4 separate regions of the Homo sapiens genome follow, and all the other regions are reported to be linked to region 2. Evidence: microRNA targets listed by miRTarBase, many of them from high-throughput screens and not tested one by one. Region 2 holds a microRNA gene; each other region holds the end of a gene's coding sequence. Distances are from middle to middle.

What was found. Region 2 holds the annotated microRNA hsa-miR-4252 (GGCCACUGAGUCAGCACCA, at 1,470-1,488, opposite strand). A microRNA usually pairs through its seed, bases 2 to 8, with sites in the 3' UTR of a target mRNA and lowers its output. Matches are read on the target gene's strand: a 7mer-m8 pairs with bases 2 to 8, a 7mer-A1 pairs with bases 2 to 7 and ends in A, and an 8mer does both.
Region 1: miRTarBase lists LRIF1 as a target of hsa-miR-4252. The part of its 3' UTR that is shown has no 7-base or 8-base seed match.
Region 3: miRTarBase lists SLC9A7 as a target of hsa-miR-4252. Seed matches in the 3' UTR shown: 7mer-m8 at 1,828-1,834, 7mer-m8 at 1,309-1,315, 7mer-m8 at 864-870, 7mer-A1 at 478-484 and 7mer-m8 at 432-438.
Region 4: the mRNA of AFF3 is a reported target of hsa-miR-4252. Seed matches in the 3' UTR shown: 8mer at 2,185-2,192.

Annotation. Positions count from the first base shown.
Region 1 is chr1:110,945,536-110,948,535 of GRCh38, forward strand. LRIF1 (ligand dependent nuclear receptor interacting factor 1) reads right to left here. Exons shown (of 4, transcript NM_018372.4): 4 at 1,655-2,864. The coding sequence ends at 2,424. Among named protein-coding and RNA genes, the nearest start is that of LRIF1, 17 kb to the right of the region's middle.
Region 2 is chr1:6,428,375-6,431,515 of GRCh38, forward strand. It overlaps MIR4252 (microRNA 4252), which reads right to left and starts at 1,522; the gene lies at 1,460-1,522. ESPN (espin) reads left to right here. Exons shown (of 13, transcript NM_031475.3): 2 at 1-45. RefSeq lists an enhancer at 184-303.
Region 3 is chrX:46,604,285-46,607,425 of GRCh38, forward strand. It overlaps SLC9A7 (solute carrier family 9 member A7), which reads right to left. Exons shown (of 17, transcript NM_001257291.2): 17 at 1-2,919. The coding sequence ends at 2,668. Among named protein-coding and RNA genes, the nearest start is that of CHST7, 32 kb to the left of the region's middle.
Region 4 is chr2:99,548,597-99,551,732 of GRCh38, reverse strand. AFF3 (ALF transcription elongation factor 3) reads left to right here. Exons shown (of 25, transcript NM_001386135.1): 25 at 138-3,136. The coding sequence ends at 259. Among named protein-coding and RNA genes, the nearest start is that of REV1, 60 kb to the right of the region's middle.

The DNA.
Region 1 (3,000 bases), 100 Mb from region 2:
CTGCCCCAGCATTCCCAGTAGCCGAGATTACAGGCATGCACAACCATGCCCAGCTAATTTTTCTACTTTTAGTAGAGACGGGGTTTCACCAGTGTTGGTCAGACTGGTCTCAAACTCCTTACCTCAGGTGATCTGCCCACCTCGGCTTCCCAAAGTGCTGGGATTACAGGTGTGAGCCACTGCGCCTGGCCTATATTTTCTACAATACATTTGCACTGTTTCTATGACAGAATGTTTCAACATTTTTCAAAGGAAGTGATGATTCATGAAATTACATTCTGCTGATAAATCAAGAAGACTGACAATTGACTACTGAATCTAGTAATATGGAAGTCACTGGTGACCTTGACAGTATGTTTATGTGGTGTGGGGAGAGCAAAACCTGACTGAAATAGTTTGGCAGTTCCTCAAAACATAGTTAAACACAGTTATTGTATGACCCAGCAATTACAGTCCTAGGTATATACCCAAGAGAACTGAAAATATATACCCATTAAAAAACCTTGTACACAAATATACACAGCAACATTACTTGTAGCTGCCAAAAGTGGAAACAATCCAAATATTCATAACGAATGGATAAAATGTGGTATATCCATGATGGAATATTATTCAGCAATAAATAATGAAGTGCTGATAAATGCTACAACATGGATAAACCTTGAAAACATTAGACTAAGTAAAAAAACACCAATCACAAAGAAAAACATATTGTATGATTCCATATATATGAAATGTTCACAACAGGCAATTCCATAAAGACAGAAAGCTTTTTAGTGCTTGCCTATGGCATAAGGAGAGGTGATGGGGAATGACTGCTAATGGGTATAAGGTTTGTTTGGGGGATGTTTTGAACATTTTGAAAATGTTCTAAAATTATAGTGTTGATGGTTGTACAACTCTGTAAACATATTAAAAACCAGAGAACTGTGTACTTTAAAAAGCTGGATTTTACAGTACATGAATTATATTGCAAAACAGCTGTTAATAGAAAGCAGCAAAATCTAGCTGATCTGTGTATTTCACTTCTTTACAGTATTTTCTGATTTACTCTTTTGTTGCCATTGCACAGATTTTTTTTTTCTTTAACCTCTCTTACTTCCAGAGATTTGATCCTTTTTTTTTTTTTTTTTTTTTTTGAGACGGAGTCTGGCTCTGTCGCCCAGGCTGTAGTGCAGTAGTGGCACAATCTTGGCTCACTGCAACTTCTGCCTCCCAGGTTCAAGCGATTCTCCTGCCTCAGCCTCCTTAGTTAGGATTACAGGTGCCCGCCACTGTGCCCGACTAATTTTTGTATTTTTAGTAGAGACAGGGTTTCGCCATGTTGGCCAGGCTTGTCTCAAACTCCTGACCTCAGGTGATCCGCCCGCCTCGGCCTCCCAAAGTGCTGGGATTACAGATGTGAGCCACTGCACCCGGCCTGATCATTTTTTAATAACATTGTTCTCCTCCTCCTCCTTTAAGAGACAGGGTCTCACTGTGCTGCCCAGGCTGGCCTCAAACTCCTGGGCTCAAGCAGTCCTCCCCACTCAGACTCCTGAGTAGCTGGGACTACAAACACACCACCACGCTCAGCTAACTCCCCATCTCTTAATCCCTATCCCTACACCATTCCCAAACTTTCCCAAATCAAAGATTAACCAGACAGAGAAAATACACTTTTACAGTTTAAGAAATATTAAATGTGATAACTGTTCAGGATCTACTTTTTACACAATCTCAGTAACGTATGTACATAGTCCCAAAAAAAAAAAAAGCAGCATTTGCCTGGGAACACATCACTATAAGCAAACAAAACATCAAATGGCCTGAATTCTAAAATACCTTTGGATTATATAAAATTACATTGTAAAGTTACAAATGTTGCTCATTCTTGAGAAATGTTTGAATGTTTAAATAATGTTGCCATAATACATATTATTTCACGACATTAAAAAAAACAATGGTGAATACAAGGTATCATCATTTTAAGGGTAAAGAGATAAAGCAAGTACATATACAAATCCACTGGAAAAGCTAAGTTTGGAGCTGATTTCCTCTCTTGAATTGTAAAATTTCAGTAATACACAGTCACTATCTACTGCTGGAATAATGCCTGAGCAATTTAGGTAAAGATACAAACAATAACAAAAACCCTGCCCAAATATTCAAACTTGGAGAATTCTAGTTAAAATAATAGAAAAATATAAAATTTATCCTTCCAAAAAAAGGTATCTAAGACAAAGGTATAGATACCCCATGTAAATTATTCACAAGTCATATGTGAATCAACCTTTTCTGTATTCCTTAAAGTTGTACAATCGACTGATGAAAAAACAAGCTTCATATTCAAAGACACTTTCAGAACACACCTACAATTAACTTATTAATGCTGAAGTATATTTTAAAAAACAGCTATTTCACTGAAGTCTTTACAGGAGATTTTATTTTTGGTGCATCTTCTTACGCATTTCTTCAAGAGCTGCTTCTTTCTCTCTCAGCACCTGCTTAAGTCTTCTTATTTTTTCATCTCGAATGGTTTCTTCTAACTCCGGTGGTGTCACTGGGAAAATATCTTCGGTATAATTTTTATTGAAGAAATGACTTTGTTCATAAGCTGCATTTGAATTCAAAGTGCCTTTCTCTTGCTTCTCATGGGTATAGTATTCCATCTCAGTTCTCTTTTCTTGTCTGGTTTTGCTGTGACTCGTGAGAATGTTATGTTGTGACACATCTGAAGTTGGTAAAATACTGCTTAGGAGTTGGGAACCGGTGACATTAGCTTCCCCATTTATGATTGCGTTATAAGCATTCTCTGTTTTTCTCTTCTTTATGTGATCCATCTTCTTATTAGTTTTTGCTTTTCTTTTCTTATCAAAATTCTGCTGCAATATTGAATAACATTCCAAAACAAAAACGAAATGTTACTGCTAAATGCACCGGGTACTACCAAACTTAACAACGTCTGCAGAAACAAATATCTAGCTATTACAATTAACAAAATTTATGGAAGACAACTAC
Region 2 (3,141 bases):
AGGAGACTTCCCCTCCCTGAGGCTTCTCGTCGAGCACTACCCTGAGTAAGATCACCCCTCTTAAGGGGTCCTCTGGGTGGGCTGGGCCAGGGCTTTGGGGGATGCCTGGGATTTTCCACGCCTCTCTGGCACTCCAGGGCAATGATCCCTCCAGTGGCCATCCTGGGGCCAGAGGGCCAGGCCAGAGAAATGGCTCCCACTCAACATGAAATTTTCCCCTCCTGGAAAACCCCTTCTGGGGCTGCCCCCAGAGCCCTGCAAGCAGGTGCTCCCAGCATCCTCAGCTGCCCGGCCGCACACAGCTGGACCTGGGAGGCTGGGCACACAGGCCAAGGTCACCTGTTCCCCTTGGGCTGCTTCTGCCGCAGGGGCTCTCTCTGGCTCAGGCTGTGCTCATTTGCAAGACTGTTCAGGATGGAGTCGGGGGCAGCAAGGGCAGGAGCGCCTCCTAGGCCCTAGTCAAACAGGCAGAAAGGGAACCCCATCAGTTACCAAGCAGTTAAGGGAGAAAGGCCCCTCCCAGACCCCCACCCCACCTCCTGGCCCCAGAGCCCCTGGCTGGAGGCCATCCAGAGAGCATCTTGTTATCTCCTGTGGCCCCTCAGCCCGTTCCTACTATCAAGGGAAGCATGGGGATCCCAAACCTCCTGGGGAGTGGGCTGGGAGCTCCCCTGGGTGGGGTGGGGGGTCACACAGAGCAGGGGGCATGTGTGAGTCTTGGGGAGGGAGGGAGGGAGGGAGGGACTCAGGTGTTAGGTGCGCCTGGGGAGGCAGGGATCCTGGGGAAAGCTGCCCAGGGCCTGTCTGAGAGGGTAGGGTGCCAGATGCCACAGGGGTCTGAGCGGGGAGTGGGGTGCTCTGATGGGTGACCCTCATTAGTCTAAGTGGGAGCCTGAGATGTAAATGTGAATGTGGACCCAGCCTCAGGACGAGAGCAGCTTTGGTATGAATTCACTGCTTCCAAACAAACTAGGATTTGGATCATGTCAAAGTCAGTGGGATTTAGACTAGGAGGGCCCCAGGGACCCTTGAGTAGAGGGTTCCAACTGGCTCCTGTCAGCACCTCTTGGAGGCTGTCCCAGATTCCTGAGTTAGACTCTCCAGGTTGGGGCGTGGGAGCCACACCTGGGACATGTCCCCACCCTCACGGCGGTGATTCTGATGCACCTGTCCCACCCCCTCACTTCAAGCAGAGGAGAAGGACAGGTCTTGAGAGGGGCAGGTGCCCCTGATGGCGGGACCAATATGGCCCAAGTGTGAACTGGAGGACGCTGAGCCCACCTTCTGCAAGTGCTGGTGGGGACCGCCAGCCCCTGAGCCTTCCTCACTGAGAAGCCGTGATCCCTCCGTGGGCTGGATCCCAGGTGTTAGGAAGACTGGCTGTGCTGTGGAACGCCCTCCAGGGCTCCGGGGCTGGGGGACCCTGACCCCCTCCCAGGCCATGCCAGGTGCTGTGTGTGATTGGGCGCTGGTGCTGACTCAGTGGCCAGATGGCCTGGACTGATGAGCTGCCAGCCCCCCAGGAGTCACCATGAATCTCAGGGAGGTGGACAGAGGGCTTGGGCTCCGTTCCCCACAGCAGCATGTGACTCGACTGATAAGAAGGTGTCTTTGTGTGGTTGCCAGGCTGGGCTCACGCAGGAGGGGCAGCTGGGAATTGGGGTTGGGGGCTGGGGTACCCACTTAACCTCCTACCTTGGGGGTAGGGATTCCTGCTCATCAAGGCTGTGGATATGAGGGCTGGGAGCTGGGGAGGGCAGAGGCTTGAGCTGCCCCAGGACACAGGGCCCCATCAGGGGACCCAGGTGGCCCAGCTTCATGCTCTTGTGAGCCTCTGGGGCCTGCTGTGAATCGTTGTGAATTATTCACAAGGCTCAGCTCTCTCGCTGGCGCGTGGGTGAGCACTGAGGGAGGAAGGGCTCCCGGACCTGCTGGTGGGAAACTCGATCCTGCCAGGGAGGCTGTGGGTGGCCACGGGACGAGGAAGTGACACGCTGCAGAGGAGCTGGAAGGCTGGACAGCCTCGGGGAAGCTCAGCTAATTCCAGGTCTATACCTTGGGGTGTTATAACAGAAAGCGCTTGAGATTGCAGGAATGTCCTGCACGTCCCCCACACCTCCCCGTCTGTCCCGTTCATGGGGCCAAGTCTTCCCAGAAGCAGAGGACTTGTCACACTGACCTCAGGGGCTGCTGCCACGCGGGACCCTCCCTCTGAGCCCTTGTAGAAAAGAGATCTCTCATACAAAATTAGCCAGGCGTGGTGGCGCATGCCTGTAATCCCAGCTACTCAGGAGGCTGAGGCAGGAGAATCGCTTGAACCCGGCAGACGGAGGTTGCGGTGAGCCAAGATTGAGCCATTGCACTCCAGCCTGGGCAACAAGAGTGAAACTCTGTCTCAAGGGGGAAAAAAAAAGAAAAAAAAAAGGCATCTCTCAGTTGGGAGGCATGGGGCTGGCAGGAGCCGGGCTGGGCAAGTCCCAGGCTCTGGGTCTCAGGGAGATTGAGTTGGGAGGATTGGCCCTCCCGGCAGGAGCTCCAGTGGCTGATGGAGGGGAACAAGGGGTCCAGATCCCTAATCAGGGCAGAGTGAGGAGGGGCAAAGAGCAGGTGGCCCCAAGGCCGGTGGCCATCCTCCCAGGAGGGTCCTGGAGCCCAGGAGCTCACTCTGTCCCCCTCACACCTGCTTCTGGCTGCCCCAGGGCCTGAGCAGCTGGGCAGGGCTGTGGGGGTCAGGGAGCTGGGGATCAGTTGGGACCCTGAGGCTTAAGCTTCCAGGCTGGGGAGTGAGGAGGCTCCAGGCTCTTCCCCTGGGCTCGTGGGTGCTGCCAGTCACAGCAAGCTGGAAAACCAGTTAGCCCAGAGATTTTATCAACTTCAGCAGGTGCCTCCTTCCCCGAAAGCCTCCCCTACCCCCGACCAGACTAGACTGGAATGGGATTGGAAAGTACCTGGGGCTGGGTACGGTGGCTCATGCCTGTAATCCCAGCACTTTGGGAGGCCGAGGCAGGTGGATCACCTGAGGTCAAGAGTTCAAAACCAGCCTGACCAACATGGTGAAACCCCGTCTCTACCAAAAATACAAAAATTAGCTGGGCATGTGGCCGGGCTATGCCTGTACAGGTGGCCCATGCCTGTAATCCC
Region 3 (3,141 bases), not on the chromosome of region 2:
TCACTAGCCTAGTTGACCCTGAGGGCTCATGGGTTTGGATAGGTTGTTTAGCATTTTTCAAACTTCCAAAGCCCATGGATGACCATAAAATCAAAATGGACTTTATTGTAGATAAAAAGGAAAGAGGAGAATAAAAATCATTCAACTGTATTTTTTTTTTTTTTTTGAGGCAGGGTCTCATTCTGTTGCCCAGACTGGATTGCAGTGGCATGATCTCAGCTCATCGCAACCTCTGCCTCTTGGGCTCAAGCAATCCTCCCACCTCAGCCTCCCAAGTAGCTAGAACTACAGGCATGTGCCATCATGCCTGGCTCATTTTTGTATTTCTGTAGAGACAGGGTTTTGCCATGTTGCCCAGTCTGGTCTTGAACTCCTGAGCTCAAGTGATCCTCCTGCCTCAGCCTCCCAAAGTGTTGGGATTACAGGCATAAGCCACTGTGCCCGGTCTCAATTTTATTTTATTGAACCATATGAAATTGCCACTCCTGTTTTTACAAAATGGTCGAATATCAGCAAACTCATATGGCTCAACCTAATTAAATACGTATTTTCCTGATTTGCACAAATTATCAATTCAAACACAAAGTTGTGAAGCAATGTCTTATTTAAAAATTAAGCATTAAACATGCGAATTGAGAAGATTAAATGACTGATTTCACTACGGGTGGACTAGACTGGGACACAATATTTTGTCTTCCATCATAAGAAAAACTGGCCAGTATGGTGAAACCCCGTCTCTACTAAAAAATACAAAAAATTAGCCAGGCGTGGTGGCGCGTGCCTGTAATCCCAGCTACTCAGGAGGCGGAGGCAAGAGAATCGCTTGAACCCGGGAGGCGGAGGTTGCAGTAAGCCGAGATCGCGCCACTGCACTCCAGCCTGGGTGACACAGCGAGACTCCATCTCAAAAAAAAAAAAAAAAAGGAAAGAAAGAAAAAAAGAAAAGCCCACGTTATTGAAAGCATTTTTTAGAAATTGGGTTGCCAAAAATAAGCTAGCACTGAAGCACAGAGACATTAAGAGAAACTCAAACTTTTCCCGAGAGGTCTTTCTGTATTTCAGCACTACAGGTGTGGGCAGACAGAACAGCTCATCCAGAAAGAATCCAAACTGAAAACCTAACTTTCAAATCACACCCACATGTTAAGCTGGTGCAGCAGCCTCCCCAGATACAAGGAAAATGACCCTTCTCTGCATGGCACTCAGTGGTGTAAAGACACTCGGACTCTTAAGCTTATAGAAGACAGAGCTTTCTAGTGGGCTGAAAATACTTAATGTTCCATTGTTTGCCCTCTGATTCCTCAGGTGGCCACTGAAATCTCATGCATTCGTCGGCTCAAAGTTTGGAATTCTACCTAGTCTTGAGACTACTATCTTGTATTTCTTTGCAGTAATTTTTTTGCATTGAGATTTCTTTCCCTCTGAATTCTAGCCTGGTGCCTTGTAGGTTTCTTGCTGCCTTCCCTTTCCCAGATAATAGCATCCTACAAAATTTGGTGTTATTTCTAAACCCAGAGTAGATACTTCAGTCCTAGTGATTATTTCCCTAGGCTGTCAGCTCATATGGTAGCCCTCAAAAGTTGAATGCTGGCCAGGTGCAGTGGCTCACACCTGTAATCCCAGCACTTTGGGAGGCCAAGGGAGGTGGATCACGAGGTCAGGAGTTTGACACCAGCCTGGGCAACATGGTGAAACCCCATCTCTACCAAAAATACAAAAAATTAGCTGGGCATGGTGGTGGGCACCTGTAATCCCAGCTAATCAGGAGGCTGAGGCAGGAGAATCACTTGAACCCGTGAGGCAGAGGTTGCAGTGAGCCAAGACCACGCCACTGCACTCCAGCCTGGGTGACAGAGTGAAACACCATCTCAACAAAAAAAAAAAGTTGAATGCTTTTTGCAGTGATACCATCATCAGTTTCTAAATACCTCCTTTCCTCAGATTAATCAAAAAATAAGAGTATAACACTATTTGCCTTTGGTTTTAAACATTTCATAACTACTTCTTTATGGATATAGCCAGAGAAGGAACTATAATTCTTCGTTCCATGTTGAAATGTTCGTGGATGTATTTTCAAATCTTCAGTCTAGAAAAAACACAGGCAGCATAAAGTCAGGAATCCTGATATGAGGTTGCAGTCAAGCAGACTTCGTTGCCAGAGCCTCCAAATTGCTTTTTCATGTTTTCTGTCCCATTTAACACCAAGTTTCCCATAATCCTTGGAGTTCCGATCTCAATTGCCTTCCTTCTCTTTAACTTGATAATTCTATGGTCAGCTTGACTTGCACTGCTGTGTACTGAGATGCAGCCTCTCATGGGAGGAATCCCCCCACCCAGCACCTGCCTCGCCTTGTTCAGATACTGCAGGTGAATGAATTAGGAGACCATTAAAGCATGCTATTTTTTTTTGTTTGTTTAACTCTGAAACAGCGCACTACTATGTGAAAAAAGTGGGAATAGGTCTACGTTTGTCTGAATTTAGAGACACTTTTGCCTCACCATCTGCATTGTGAGTTAAATTTTAAGTGTTACAATAGCTTCAGACCCCAATAAAATAGAAGAGTTAGTTCAATCTAGTCACTGCCCCACCTCCAACAACACTAGGGCTTGCAGCTGTCCTCACCCCATCGGGAGCCTACCCCATCGCGCCAGGGCTTGGGGGGAAAGTCAAGCATTATCTTCCAGGGGAAACACTAGGCGGGTGCCCCGGCTCGAAACCTTCTGGTCTCCCATTCCCAGGTCTCGCTCCAGCACTTCCTCCGAGCTGCTCTTCGTTCTCCGGCTGCCCTCCAGACTCGTGGAGGCGGTGTGCGAACTTGAGGAGCCATTTGCAGTCACTGTGCTGTCCCCGTAGGTCAATGTCAGGTCGCCTTCGGTCAGGATGAAATCAGAGTCTTCCTCTCTCAGTGGCTCTTGGTTCTGAAAAGTGCAACCAACAACAACAACAAAAATGAGAGACTGATATCTTCCAGGTTTGGCACCAACCCCAATCCCAATCCCAACTCCTCATCTGAAAACTGGGGACTATGAAACTTGCCTGCCTTGAGCCTCTAGCGTGGTAACTGGATGTAAACTGTAGAGGGCCGGGCACGGTTGCCAGGACTAGGACTTAGAATACTAGAAAACAGTTTCTAATTTCAA
Region 4 (3,136 bases), not on the chromosome of region 2:
ATGCTAAAGTTACATGATGGAACGGAGAATCCTTGATTTATATAGAGACCATGAATGGAATTTTTCCTTACATCAGTTGCTCAGGATAGCACACCTAGCATGTGTGGCATTCTTAACAACTCTTTCTGTCCCCCTAGAATTCTTCAACGACCTGGATCTGCTCATGGGGCCGGTCACCCTGCACAGCAGCATGGAGCACCTGGTCCAGTACTCCCAACAGGGCCTGCACTGGCTGCGGAACAGCGCCCACCTGTCATAGGGACCTCACCCTGGGGCCAGAGTGGGCTCTGGTCTCCACAGATGGCTCAACGTTTTTGGACACTGTGCTACTGAAACTCCCAGCCACAGCATTTATCAGACTGCGGTGAACATTTCCTCAGCATTGAACAATGATCTTTTGCAGGGCATGTGTGTTTGTATGTGTGGGTATATAAGAAGCCGCCTGTGTATGTGTGTAAGATACACAGCTCTTCAGAACACACCTTCTTTGTCTAGTTTCCATAATCCCAGGCTAGACAAAGTGATCAGAGGTTTCTGACTAGAGGAAGTACACACACACACACACACACACACACACACCGTACACTCACACACAATCACAGACACACACTTTCTATTCCATTCCAGTGCTAAACCGTGACTTCTTAGAAAATTCAACCAAAATCTCATGGGTTAGTTAACCAGGTGCAATACAGCACACCAAAAGCTTGACTGCCAGTGAAGATGGACCTGCTCTTATACTGTTGATTACTTTCAGTATTAATATACTATTCCCCAATTATTTTTTGATTGGTATGTATTAATGGGTAATTGAATAATGAAAATAAGCCAGGTATTTTTGTGCCGGAAGTTTACTAGATTGCATGTTACCAAATACCCTGCTCTTCCTCTAATTCCCTTCCCCCATCTGACTCTATTATCAACTAAATGCATTCCAGGCAAACAGATGGACACTCACAGCCCTTCCCAGCCCCACCTCCAAGTAGTATGCAAATGGCACTGAGATTTAGCAAAAACGCGGCGTCTTTGAAAGTTAACAGACACTAAGGTAGCAGTGCCTGTGTGTTGGAGCTCAGTTAGGAGTTGAAGTTTTCTGCACCTGTGATAACAAGCCCACCAGCCACATGCATTTCTTCTTCCTGCCACTGTGACTCGGTGGCTGTAGAGCCACATGGCATTTGTCAGCCAATCTGTTTCAAGTCTTTTCTTTCCACCAATAGCTTTCTTACAGATTTTCTTGGCTAAATGAGGCCATTACCTAGATTGTCCCTTCAGTAGGAGCCTGAATCCTTCGCTTACCAGGCTGAGAGCTATTTGCCATGATAATGCTGATTCTCTCACTCCTCATGCAGAATGTGCACCTGCAGCCCTTTGATGCGTTTTGATTTGGGGGCGATTTTTCAGGCTTTGATTAGCAGGCTGCTTGCAATGCAGAAGATCACAGTTCCTTTCTGGGGCAGCAGCAACCAGAGCCTCTTCCTGTGTCCTGTGTGTCTGGTATGTTTACACCTTGCTCTGAGTTTTTCTCTTGTTTTCTTTTTTTAATTAAGTTTACATTTTAGTTTCTTTGACATCTTGTTTACAGTTTTTGTCTGATGTTTTTTCTTTTGTAGTGTCTTATGCCCTAGATTTAGTCATCTTGTTAAATATATTTGGATATGAAATCTTGACGAAAAGAAAATAACTCCTGAAAAAGAGGGTCTATCTTGCCACACGTTAAAAACAAAAATAATGTCCTTGTGGCCTCTTACTTGATAAAGTTGCACCAGGACGGTCTGAGAAAGGCAGGCGGTGTAATATGTGGTGCAATCCATTTTTTCAAGGTGATGACGGCACAAAATACTTAGACTAGATGCTGATCCATAAACATTCACTGATATTCTTACAGGTTGGTTTGCAGTGTTAACATTTTTGTTAGCCTGATCTGTAGGTGGGAAGTAAGATCATCATAATTCCTTAGCTCTGAGCACTGATTCAAAATTGTATAAATGACTGAACAACTTAGATGATTTGAAATTAATTGAAAATAAGAAGGGCTTGTGGAATTTGCATTTGGCTTTGGCCTTCAAGCATTTGGAAATATTAAGAGAATTTCCATTTTACATGTCTCCAACTGGGGTGCTTCTTACAACCCTTTCACTTTTTTTTTGAGACGAGTTTCGCTCTGTTGCCCAGGCTGGAGTGCAGTGGCACGATCTCGGCTCACTGCATCCTCTGCCTCCTGGGTTCAAGTGATTGTCCCGCCTCAGCCTCCCAAGTAGCTGGGATTACAGGTGTGCACTACCATGCCCAGCTAATTTTTGTGTTTTTAGTAGAGACTGGGTTTCACCATGTTGGCCAGGCTCGTCTCAAACTCCTGACCTCAGGTGATCTACCCGCCTCCACCTCCCAAAGTGTTGTGATTACAGGCGTGAGCCACCACACCCAGCCCTTTCACTAATTTTTGGCAGAGTTCACAATCCCATCCTATGTCAGAAACTTGAACCTAACTTAAGAAATTTTGAGTCATTTTTTTGGAGGACTGAGGCTTTGTTCTACCTACTCTTGAAGAATCCTGATGAAATATTCAAACACATAAAGGGATGGCCCTGGAGGTCTATCCTGCATACCTGGAGAGCTTCTCTGGTCCTGCCCACCTTGAAAGTTGCAGACTTTGTTGTAACATCTATGTGATGAGCTTCCCTGTGAAGCCCCATTTGACAGGTGGGCCAGCAGTGTTTTATCAGCACTCTGATGGCCCACATTTCCCAGGAAAACTTCTTGAAACTTACCGTTGTGGGCAGTGGTCAGAGCGTGTAGTTCTTATGACTGTCTTGTTTCATCTGTGGAGCACGTGTGGAGCACGTTGGTACAGCAGTTTCTGTGGGGTTTGGCATGGGTGATTTTGGTTAGTAACCATCCTCCAATTGTTGCTTGTGAAAGTCATTCATAACTTGTTCCTTTTACTTAGTTTTGTTGTTACTGCTGTTGTTGTTGGTTTGGTTGGTTTTGAGACCGGGTCTGGCTCTGTAGCCCAAGCTGGAATGCGGTGGCGCGATCATGGCTCCCTGCAGCCTCAAACTCCTGGGCTCAAGCAATCCTCCTGCCTCAGCCTCCCAAGCAGCTGGGAAGATAGGCACGTGCCACCACACCCGGC